Linked DNA regions of Homo sapiens: all the other regions are linked to region 3. Evidence: fine-mapped expression QTL. A gene starts in region 3. Each other region holds a variant in brackets. All regions are shown on one strand. Distances are from middle to middle.

Region 1 (2,686 bases), 190 kb before region 3:
GCTAACCACAAAAATGGTGTTGGCTGGTCCCAGAAGCAGGAGGTGGCAGAGAAGATGGTCTGGAGGTTGCAAGTGGAGGGGAGATTGGAGAGGAGTCAGAGGCTGGAAGATAGGGAGGCTGGGTCTGGTCCATCCAAACACTGTTTTTTTTTTGAGATGGGGTGTCTCTCTATCGCCCAGACTGGAGTGCAGTGGCGCGATCTAGGCTCACTGCAACCTCTGCCCTCTGGGTTCAAGTGATTCTTGTGCCTCAGTCTCCCAAGTAGCTGGGATTACAGGTGCATGCCACCATGCCTGGCTAATTTTTGTATTTTTAGTAGAGACAGGGTTTCACCATGTTGGCCAAGCTGATCTCGAACTCCTGACCTCAAGTGGTCCACCTGTCTCGGCCTCCCAAAGTGTTGGGATTACTGGCGTGAGCCACCACGCCCGGCCAAAACACTGTTGAAGCAAGAGACAGATCCACAGTACAGCAGAATGCACTGCCCACTATTTCTTTTTTGAGACAGTCTTGCTCTGTCGCCCAGGCTGGAGTGCAGTGAATCTTGGCTTACTGAAACCTCTGCCTCCCGAGTTCAAGTGATTTTCCCGCCTCAGCCTCCTAAGTAGGTGGGATTACAGGTGCATGCCACCATACCCGGCTAATTTTTGTATTTTTAGTAGAGACAGGGTTTTGTCATGTTGGCCAGGCTGGTCTTGAACTCCTGACATCGAGTGATTTGCCTGCCTTGGCCTCCCAATGTGTTGGGATTACAGGCGTGAGCCACTGCACCCAGCCAGCTTCTGATACTACACTCACACAACTGTGATCTTCACCATTGTCAGGCAGAGGTAAATGAATAGCAGGGATAAGCAGGTTGCAGCATTTTAGATGGAGAGAAGAAAGAGACAGGAGAAGAATTTCATAAGATGTTAGTCTACTTGCTGAAAAATGCTGAGTTTGGTTGGAATTTAGTAGACTTTCTACAGCATTTGGGACATGAAATTAAGTTTATTTCCTAAAACCAGCTCATATGAAGCTTCTACCACTAGGCTTCTGCTGCTACTGCTTTTAAACAATTAGAATATGCCTCAGCTACTAGGTCTAATTGTAGGCTATAATAGGCAACGGGCCTGTTTCCTCCCATGTTTTTGGGTAAGAACTCCTAATGCCTGATGTTAGGTTTCGAAATGAACAAGGTAAAAGATTTAGCCTGATTTGAAAGTCATAAAGCTGGGGGGTGTTATAAGGCCAATTTCATGGTGAAAAGCCAGCTCATGACTGTCTTCTTAAGGTAATGGCTCTGGGACTGTGTTTCTAGTGAGCTCATACAATGGTGAAGACATCACAGAAAAATTCAGGGTCCAGGATCTGCAATATCCTGCAAGTGTAAGAAACCCTCTTAATTGTCTTTTGGTTGCAGGCTGAGAAAAACTGAATGGTTGAGAGAGAAATCCCTTCAGCAGTCAAGTCGTATCCCAAATAGTAAATTAATTAATTAATTAATCTATCT[A/G]TTTTTGAGATGGAGTCTTCCTCTGTCGCTGAGGCTGGAGGGCTGGAGTGCAGTGGCATGATTTTGGCTCACTGCAACCTCTGCCTCCAGGGTTCAAGCCATTCTTCTGCCTCAGCCTCCCCAGTAGCTGGGATTACAGGCACCTGCCACCATGCCTGGCTAATTTTTGTATTTTTAGTAGAGATGAGGTTTCACCATGTTGGCCAGGCTGGTCTTGAACTCCTGACCTCAGGTGATCCACCCACCTTAGCCTCCCAAAGTGTTGGGATTACAGGTGTGAGCCACTGCACCCAGTCCCAAATAGTAAACTTTTTCTCTCGATGTAAAACTGAAGTTTTTCCATCACAGCTTTGTGACCTATATGTGTGAGTTGCTGTAAAGTAAACAGAGTCAATTTCAGAGCACTTTTTTTTTTTCTCATTCAACCCCTTTGGTATCAGAGCACTCTTATTTATTTTACAGTTTTATTTTTTTACTTGTTTATTATTATACTTTAAGTTCTAGAGTACATGTGCACAACTTGCAGGTTTGTTACATATGTATACATGTGCCATGTTGCTGTGCTGCACCCATTAACTTGTCATTTACATTAGGTATATTTCCTAATGCTATCCCTCCCCCCTCCCCCCACCCCACAACAGGCCCCAGTGTGTGATGTTCCCCACCCTGTGTCCAAATTTTCTCATTGTTCAATTCCCACCTATGAGTGAGAACATGCAGTGTTTGGTTTTCTGTCCTTGAGACAGTTTGCTCAGAATGATGGTTTCTAGCTTCATCCATGTCCCTACAAAGGACATGAACTTATCCTTTTTTATGGCTGCATAGTATTCCATGGTGTATATGTGTCACATTTTCTTAATCCAGTCTATCATTGATGGGCATTTGGGTTGGTTCCAAGTCTTTGCTATTGTGAATAGTGCTGCAATAAACATACGTGTGCATGTGTCTTTATAGCAGCATGATTTATAATCCTTTGGGTATATGCCCAGTAATGGGATCGCGGGGTCAAATGGTATTTCTAGTCCTAGATCCTTGAGGAATCGCCACACTGTCTTCCACAATGGTTGAACTAGTTTACAGTCCCACCAACAGTGTAAAAGCATTCCTATTTCTCCACATCCTCTCCAGTCCCTGTTGTTTCCCGACTTTTTAATGATCCCCATTCTAACTGATGTGAGATGGCATCTCATGGT
Region 2 (2,686 bases), 240 kb before region 3:
TTGGAGGAAGGTAGGGTTTGTTCTAACGCTTTGCACAAAGGCGGGAAACGGTCATCAAAGCTGTTGCGAAGGGAAGAGCCAATGCATTAATTCGATCCAAGAGGACTCGCCTCGTTGGATTTGCAGCAACCTAATCTCTCGCTCAGGAAGAAAACGCCACGATAAAGAGTTTTCTGTCCTCCTTGTTTGCACGGAGCAGCAAACGCAGAGACAAAAGAAACGGGCCCCGACTGGTAAGCACGCTGGCAGCTTTGCGGAACTGCGCCGCGGGATTCCCCGCAGGGCCTGGGTCGATGAACTCCGACCAGGCGGAGGGCGCGTCCGCTTGGCGCGGTTGTCCCCGCCCAGGCCCATGTTCAGTCGAACAGCCCCCACGGCTGGGTAAAACCACTCAGTTCATCTCGCCCGGCTCCTCGAACGCGGCCCTTTAAGGGGCTCGCAGCCTCAGGGACGCCGGGCTGACCCCGCCCCCGGCTGCCGCCATCTTGTTGTTTTCCCCTGTCCCTCCGGGCCGGCCACGTGGCACGGCTCCGCGGAAGCGAAGGCACCGCCCCAACTTCCGGCAGGACTGGTTCTAGCCGCCCGCGGGACGCAGACGCGCGGCTGCCCCCTGGCGGCTGGCCGCGGAGCTCCGGCCGCGCCCTGCCCCGCCTTCCTCCGCCATTTCATTCCCTGCCTGCAGCACGTCCGCGTTCCGCCACCAGCCTTGGCGCACAAGCGTGCTCCGAGGGCGGGGCCGCTCCGGGCACCACGCCTAGTGCGGGAGCGTTTTTTAGTCTGGTTCACCGAGGGCTAGAAGGTCACCTACATGTTTACACACATTTAATTTAATTATTAATTTTTTATTTTGTTTTATATTTTTGAGACAGGGGCTCACTCTGTCCCCCAGGCCGGAGTGCAGTGGCGCGACCACAGCCTTCTGCAGCCTCAGCTTCCGTGCTCAAGGGACGCGCCCGCCTCAGCCTCCCAACATGCTGGGATTACGGGCGTGAGCCACCGCCCGGGAACAACTTAATTAAAAAAAAAAAAGCCATACGGTTGCCTCGAGGTATTTTGGTATGCGGTGCTTGGTGCTTCCAGACTAACACATGAGGCCCCAACCTTGGTTTTCAGACCTGGCTTCTGCCCAGAGCCCCAAGCCATGTCAGACCAGGGCGTTTCCCAGGCGGTCCCGGGTCCGCAGTGCAGGGTGGCGCTGGGGGCGAGGGGGACGACGAGCGCGGGGTGGGCACGGTGCGGCCGGGGGGCTGGGGAGGCGCACGGGGCGGGGTGCAGCTCCAGGGACCTGGTCAGCACCCTTTACCAGTCCTATTTCTTGGTTTTCTGGACGTTCTTCTCTCCTTGGAGCTGCTCTTGTCTTTCCCATTTCATCTCCAAACCGATTTTGATTTCCTGAACGTTTGTCTTGAGCAAGGCCTGCGTTATCTTAGGTAATCCTCCTAGCAGCCTTTGATATGGAAGCTCTTTCTACTCACAC[T/C]GGCGCTCAGCAAGAGTAATTTGTTCATGGGGTAGAGCCTGGTTGGAATCGAGGGCACGTAAGTTTCCACTAGACATTGAGGTTCTCAGATAGTCCTCCAGCCAGGCAGCATCTCCAATGTCGGGGAGCTCGTTGGAAATGCCAGTGTTAGGAGTCTATCCCGGACCTTCTAAATGGGAAATTCTGAGGACGGTGGCGGGTGGGGCCCGAGAAGCTGTGATTACTAGGCAGCAAGGTGATTCCGAGGCACACTGAAGACCCCTTTCCCTCACAGCCCTTCTCAGGGTAAGGAAAGGGAGACTTGTCTTTATTGAGTGCTGATTCCATGGCATTTTGCATAATTCTGTGATGTAATCCTCCCTACCACTCTTTTATAGAAGAGGAAACTGTAGCTCAAACTTTCCATGAATTTAGAGTGCCAATATTTATGTAAAATGATACGATTGTATGTGCCTTTTGCTTGTACCATGTATGCATAAAATATCTCTGGAAGAATATTCAGGTGTTAACATAGTTTTACCTCCGGGGAGAGAAGGATGTAGGTTGCTAGGGTGACTGAGTTGGGATTTTTTTTTTTTTTGGTAAGATTTAGTAACTTGTGGCCGGGCGCGGTGGCTCACGTTTGTAATGCCAGCACTTTGGGAGGCCGAAGCGGGCGGATCACAAGATCAAGAGATCGAGGCCGCGCGCGGTGGCTCACGCCTGTAATCCCAGCACTTTGGGAGGCCGAGGCGGGCGGATTACGAGGTCAGGAGATCGAGACCATCCTGGCTAACACGGCGAAACCCTGTCTTTACTAAAAATACAAAAAATTAGCCGGGAGTGGTGGCGGGTGCTTGTAGTCCTGGAGGCTGAGGCAGGAGAATGGCGTGAACCTGGGAGGCGGAGACTGCAGTGAGCCGAGATCGCGCAACTGCACTCCAGCCTGGGCAACAGAGCGAGACTCCGTCTGAATAAAAAAAAAAAGAAATTGAGATCATCCTGGCCAACATGGTGAAACCCCGTCTCTACTAAAAATACAAAAATTAGCTGGGCGTGGTGGCACGCGCCTGTAGTCCCAGCAGCTCGGGAGGCTGAGGCAGGAGAATCTCTTGAACCCGGGAGGTGGAGGTTGCAGTGAGCCGAGATGGCGCCACTGCACTCTAGCCTGGGCAACAGAGCGAGACTCCCTCTCAATAAAAAAAAAAAATTTAGTAACTTATGAATTTG
Region 3 (2,686 bases):
CATAAAGACTATCTATCAGTTTGAAGTGTCTTTTTGAGAATCAGAAAGGGGAGAGGATATAGGGGGCAAAGGATGTATTCTTTGAGATCCTGCTCTTAAGCAGTGATTCTTCTCTAGCACTCCTTATTTCTAGAATTTTCTAGCCATCTCTAACAAAAGCAAAGTGCAAAGAGCATTTAATACAAACCAAAACATGAAATGATCTTTTGATAGTTCAGTGTTGTGGCTGTGACTTGGAATTTTTCACTACATTTAAAAAAAAAAAAGCCACATATGCCCGGGTAGTCTCTGCATCAAGTCTGATACCATTGCTCCGACGTTATGAGGCTGAAGCAGTTGTGGCTGATTGATGTCACTCTTCTAGCCATCTCCTATTTCCACAGAGAGAGGCCGGGTTAATCCAACTCCAGTCTAACTTCGGAGGCATCAAGGATTCTAGGCAGCATCTCCCGTGTTTCTTTTTCCAAGTGAATTCCTGGAGGAAAACAATGAGGTCCATGTGTCTTTGCATCCCCAGGGACCAGCTCAGTAATGGGCGTATAAGAACACGCTGAAAAAAATTGTTTTGTTTTTGAACGACAGCGATTTAAGAGTAGTAAGGTCCTCGTAAATATAGGACATTGTACTCGTGTTTTTCTTCCGAGCATACAAATATTTGCAATGAGGTTGCACCGCAGACTCCACAGCCATTGTGGCACCTGGGGCTCTGTGACTTGGGAGGCAGAGGAGATGGAATGCCGGTGAGAAGAAGGAGATTGTGGTGTGAATGTGAGGGATGAGGGTGAATTAGCTTCCTACGGCGGCTGTTACAAGTTTACCACAAGATAAATGAGTTAAAACAGTACAGATTTATTATCTCACAGTTCTGGAAGACAGAAGTTCAAACTACTGGCAAAGTTCAAAGTGTTGGCAAGGCTGTGCTCCTCAGGAGGCTCTAGAGGAGAACCTTTTTCTTGCCTTTTCCTGTTTCTAGGGGCCACCGGCATCCTTCGGCTCATGGCCTCTTCCTCCATCTTAAAAGCCAGCTTCTGCAAATTCGTCTCTAATTCTGACACTACTTCTCTTGCCTCCCTCTCTCACTTATAGGGGTCCCTGTGATGACAGTAAGCTCACCCTGATAATCGAGGCTAATCTCCCCATCTTAGGGTTAGCCTATTAGCAACCTAAATTCCACCGGCAACTTTAATTCCCCCCTTGCCATGCACCGTGACATATTCACAGGTTCTGGGGAGGAGGGCATGAGCATCTTTGTCGGGGCATTGTTCTGTCCATCACAGAGAAGCACTCAGAGATTCCGGACTCCAGTATCCTCATTGTACACTTGAGGAAGCTTGGGCTCAGAGGCTTTATGTTAATTCCAACAGTTTTTGCAACAGGAGGAGGAGAATATCTGTCCAGGAGCCCTAATCAAGACTCAGCAGGAAGCTGGTGGCTTCCTTTCCTTCCTTCTTTTGCTTCCTTCCTGTTCTTCCTGTGCTTCCTTTCAGTTCTTCCTTCTACATATGGGGCCCATCACATTCCCACTGACTCAGATGCTGAGGGGCCAGACTGAAGGGACAGTGGCCATTGCATCAAGTCAGAGAACGGATCTGACCCATCTAGTAGAAGCTTATTGTTTTGGCAGAAGCACAAGCTCTTAGAGGTGCAGCTGCAGGGTGTGACCTATTGGGGACATTGAGCTCAGTGACCATGGGCCCTGAGAGTCTGAAATCCTGGAATTTCTCCCAAAACGAAGTCCATGTAGGGAAGCCAAAGTGTGAGTCTTACCCGGCTGGTTTACAACTGACTGACATTTGCTGCCTGGGCAGCTGTTGTGGGTGCCTGGAAACCCTATTGGACTAGGACTGGCCCCGGCAAAAAACAAGTGTTATAGCTGCCCAGTGTCCTCTGAGTGGATGCTGGTGATTCTGGTATGGAGCCCAGATGTAAGGCAGCAGGTGGTCCAGAAGGCACCAGAAGAGGTCTCCTGTCAAAGTCAGGGCCAGAGAAGAAGGCACAGGGAACCTACTGCACGAGACTTTCACTTGCAACGAGCAACCCATGATGAGGAGGGAGGATTCCTGGGGGCATTGAGTCCCCCAGACACAAGGACCCAAGACCTTCTTGCTTGGAAAGTGAATTCCTCAGAATTCCGAGATGATGCCAGTCTTGGAGGAAGATGACATGAGGACCCAAAACCTTCTTGCTTGGAAAGTGAATTCCTGAGAATTCCGAGATGATGCCAGTCTTGGAGAAAGATGACATGAGGACCCAAAACCTTCTTGCTTGGAAAGTGAATTCCTCAAAACTCCACAAAGACTCCAGTCTTGGAGGAAGATGACATGAGGACCCAAAACCTTCTTGCTTGGAAAGTGAATTCCTCAGAACTCCACGAAGACTCCAGTCTTGGAGGAAGACGAGGTGTTGAGAGATAGCTGGGATCCCTGAGGAAGGCAGCCCCAGTCTCCGGTGGAGAATTAAGAGGGGCCCAAGCAGATGGTTGGTGGTGGAAACGTCACCTCAGTATAGTACTATGGAGTTTCCTTTCACCCCCAACAGCCGACGGTTTCCAGGGGCGAAGAGTGAAAATTGAAGCAAGGTGTCTACTGTCCAGGTGAGAGCCACATCCTATGGCTGAGGGCCTGGGGGCATTGGGGACCACCAAGAATGAATACTTTTCCAATTAAGTGAAGTCTTTTGCACAATA
Region 4 (2,686 bases), 24 kb before region 3:
GCTACTCATACTTGAAAGAAAGGAGGAGAGGAGAGGTTGGCCCACCTCCCTCCTGCTCTCCCTCCCTTTCCCAGGCCTCCTTCTCTCTCTTTGCCTTGTCCCTAGCAGGGAAGGAGATTGGAACAGGCAGCCTTTGGGGACTGTGGGACCCTCTTCCTGATAGGTCAGATCCACAGTGGCCCAGGAAGGCCCTACCTGGACAGCGAATAGTGTCTCTAGGGGGAGGGAAGTTTCCTCCAGGTGGGACCTTTGGTCACATGGCCTCACATGGTTTATGTCTCAGAGTGACAGGTGTCGCTTGTTATAAGACACAAGAGTAAAAAGCAAAGAGGAGCAGACAAAGGCAGGTCCTCAAGGGAGGTGGGCTCTGCAGGATTCCCTAAGAGCCAAAAAGGCACAACAAGGGAGCCCAGTGGCACTGGTAGGCTTCTGAGCATAGGCATTCCAGGGCTTTGTTATTATTTTTTCCAAATGGAAACCTCTTTAGAAGATCAACTGTCATAATTTGCCCAAGCTACAAGCTCAAACATGGCTAAGAAACATTGCTCAAGGTCATTTCCAAAAGCACGTTCTTCCAGCTTTTCGAGGTCGGGGCGGGGATTTGTGTTCTGTTCTCATTTTTGCTTGTGTCTTTGCCCATGGTTGAACTGAAGAGGTCTCTCCAGGCCCAGTGTTCACCGGAAGAAGGGGAGATGGGAACTATTCCCAGCCACTCTTCTCTCAAGAACTGATGGGGAGTCATGGGTCCCTGCCCCACTTGTCCATGTGAGAGGGAAGCAGGTGTGCTTTTACCAGAAAGAGTTCTCGAGGGGTTAGCACCCCAGGAATGCATCTATGCTGACTCTGCTTATCATGACTCCCCACCTTCAAAATACATCTTAGGGTCACCGCACATCCCAGAAAGTGGCAACACAGGGGCACCCCTCGATGTGCCGAGTATCCAGAGTCACGTTCTTGGAAGGCGTGACCAGCGTGTAATTTAAGCAAATGGAATCTTTCCCAAATGTCTTCTTTTACAACTGAAAAAACAAATTAAGCAACAGA[G/A]GAAAAACAAATCCAGAGAAATAGCCTCTTCCGGGGAAGTCTGACCTCCCTGTCTAGAAGGTGAGGACAGTGCTGCGGCCGTGTTTCTGCTGGCTCCGGCCCGAGGCTGTCTCCCAGACAGCTGCTGTCCCACTGAATTAGGTTCAAGCGAACACGGCCATTGAGATCCAAAGTATTTCTGGCTGGTTTGGGCGTGGGTCCTTTCTCTAGATGAATATTTTAATGTGGGAATTCAGAGGAAAGCTATGGGGAAAGCAGTGTTGGTCAACTGACGACGCTAAAGAACCACCTTCGGTGGTTGTCACGGTGAGTTTGGCACTGAAGGCTCTTTGCTGTTCTGACCTGAAGCTCTCTGTTAGGACTTCCTGCTATTTTTCTCACAAGCCCTCATTTTCGCTGACAGTTCAGATCATGCCCTGTGCATATCCAGTTCCCCCGGTAGGCACGGCTCCTCCTTTCACCTCAATGCCCCGCTTTCCGCTCGGCCCACACTGGACTCTTGCTACCTCTTGTTTTGGCTTATGTTTAATCTTACTTTTTTAAAGCAACATCTTCTGATTATGAAATAATTTATACTTTTTTTTTGCAGAGAATGTGGAAAATACAGAAAAGTATAAGCAGAAGCATAAAAATTATTCACAGTTGCACCCTTGGAGGGAGCTGTCCTATAAATCTTGGTGAATTTGCTGCCCTTCTTTTTTCTGTGGATCTGTCTATTACATGTGATAGTTTTTAAAGCTGATGTCATGTTATTGATGTAGTTTTGCTTCTTGCTTTATCCATTGAAGACTATAATGTGAGAAATTTCCTCGCTGGGGCTCTTCCCAAACCTGATATTTACTGACCACACCAATATTCAATTGAATGAGGGAGTGTCATAATTCAATCACTTATAGTTTCCAGAAACGTTGTGCTCATTTACATTTTCCTTAGCAGCATATGAGGGTGCATGAATCCCATCATCACAACGCAATGGAATTAGGGAGAAATGCCAGTGAAAGATGAAGAGAGATGAGGCAGGACTAGCAGGAGCGCCTCAGACCCTCATTTCTGCAGGCAAGAAAGGAAAGGATCCTGTGGAAGGGTCTCCCACTGCTGTGTGATTCTAAAAGCTTTGGGCAGGGGATAGGGAGTCTCCAAACCAAAGCCTGGTGGCCATTCTGTGACAGGCAGGAGTGGGCTGCTATGAGGACCCTGGTCATGTTGAAGCTTTGGCGGGGGGTCACCAAGAGGTGGATAGCTGGAGCTGTCAGTCAACTCTGCTTCCCAGGGGCAGATTCTCTCAAAACAGACCAGAACTATAGCCCTTGCTCTCCCATGCCCACCCCACTTCACCTGATAAACAGGAAATATAATTAAAACATATAATTATGAACTGTGAAAATGGTCTAATTTTGCTGGTTTTCATTCTTCTGATTAACCTTGATGTCAAACATTTCTCATGAATTTTGTTACATACTTGTACTTCTAAGAATTGTGTGCCTGGGTTCTCTGTTTGCCCGTGATTGTTTTCTTTATTGATGTTTTAAGAGGATTTGCGGCATTAAGCCTGTTAACTCTTTCTCCATTCTCTTTCATATTTTAACCAATTTATCACTTCTCTTTATATTTTATGTAGGATGTTTGGATGTTTTAGAATAAC

Which allele goes with the higher level. Alleles are on the strand shown, and positions count from the first base shown. SD is a standard deviation of normalised expression in the study named. Not every link is listed here.
For the expression in tibial artery of the gene that starts at base 1,516 in region 3, G is the low allele of the variant in region 1 and A is the other (small effect, 0.24 SD a copy in GTEx).
In carriers of allele G in region 4, the expression in thyroid of the gene that starts at base 1,516 in region 3 tends to be lower than with A alone (small effect, 0.39 SD a copy in GTEx).

What was found.
Region 1: its variant is fine-mapped to the expression of LINC00930 in tibial artery (GTEx, PIP 0.98).
Region 2: its variant is fine-mapped to the expression of LINC00930 in whole blood (TOPMed, PIP 0.96).
Region 4: its variant is fine-mapped to the expression of LINC00930 in thyroid (GTEx, PIP above 0.99).

Annotation. Positions count from the first base shown.
Region 1 is chr15:92,760,054-92,762,739 of GRCh38, reverse strand. No RefSeq gene overlaps it. Among named protein-coding and RNA genes, the nearest start is that of FAM174B, 110 kb to the right of the region's middle. The variant A/G (reference allele first, on the strand shown) is at 1,494.
Region 2 is chr15:92,807,193-92,809,878 of GRCh38, reverse strand. It overlaps LOC124903558 (a long non-coding RNA gene), which reads left to right. Exons shown (of 2, transcript XR_007064767.1): 1 at 1-233; 2 at 870-1,974. Among named protein-coding and RNA genes, the nearest start is that of CHASERR, 74 kb to the left of the region's middle. RefSeq lists enhancers at 210-329, 266-1,116 and a silencer at 490-729. The variant T/C (reference allele first, on the strand shown) is at 1,478.
Region 3 is chr15:92,571,093-92,573,778 of GRCh38, reverse strand. It overlaps LINC00930 (long intergenic non-protein coding RNA 930), which reads left to right and starts at 1,516. Exons shown (of 4, transcript NR_021493.1): 1 at 1,516-2,593.
Region 4 is chr15:92,594,720-92,597,405 of GRCh38, reverse strand. No RefSeq gene overlaps it. Among named protein-coding and RNA genes, the nearest start is that of LINC00930, 24 kb to the right of the region's middle. The variant G/A (reference allele first, on the strand shown) is at 1,045.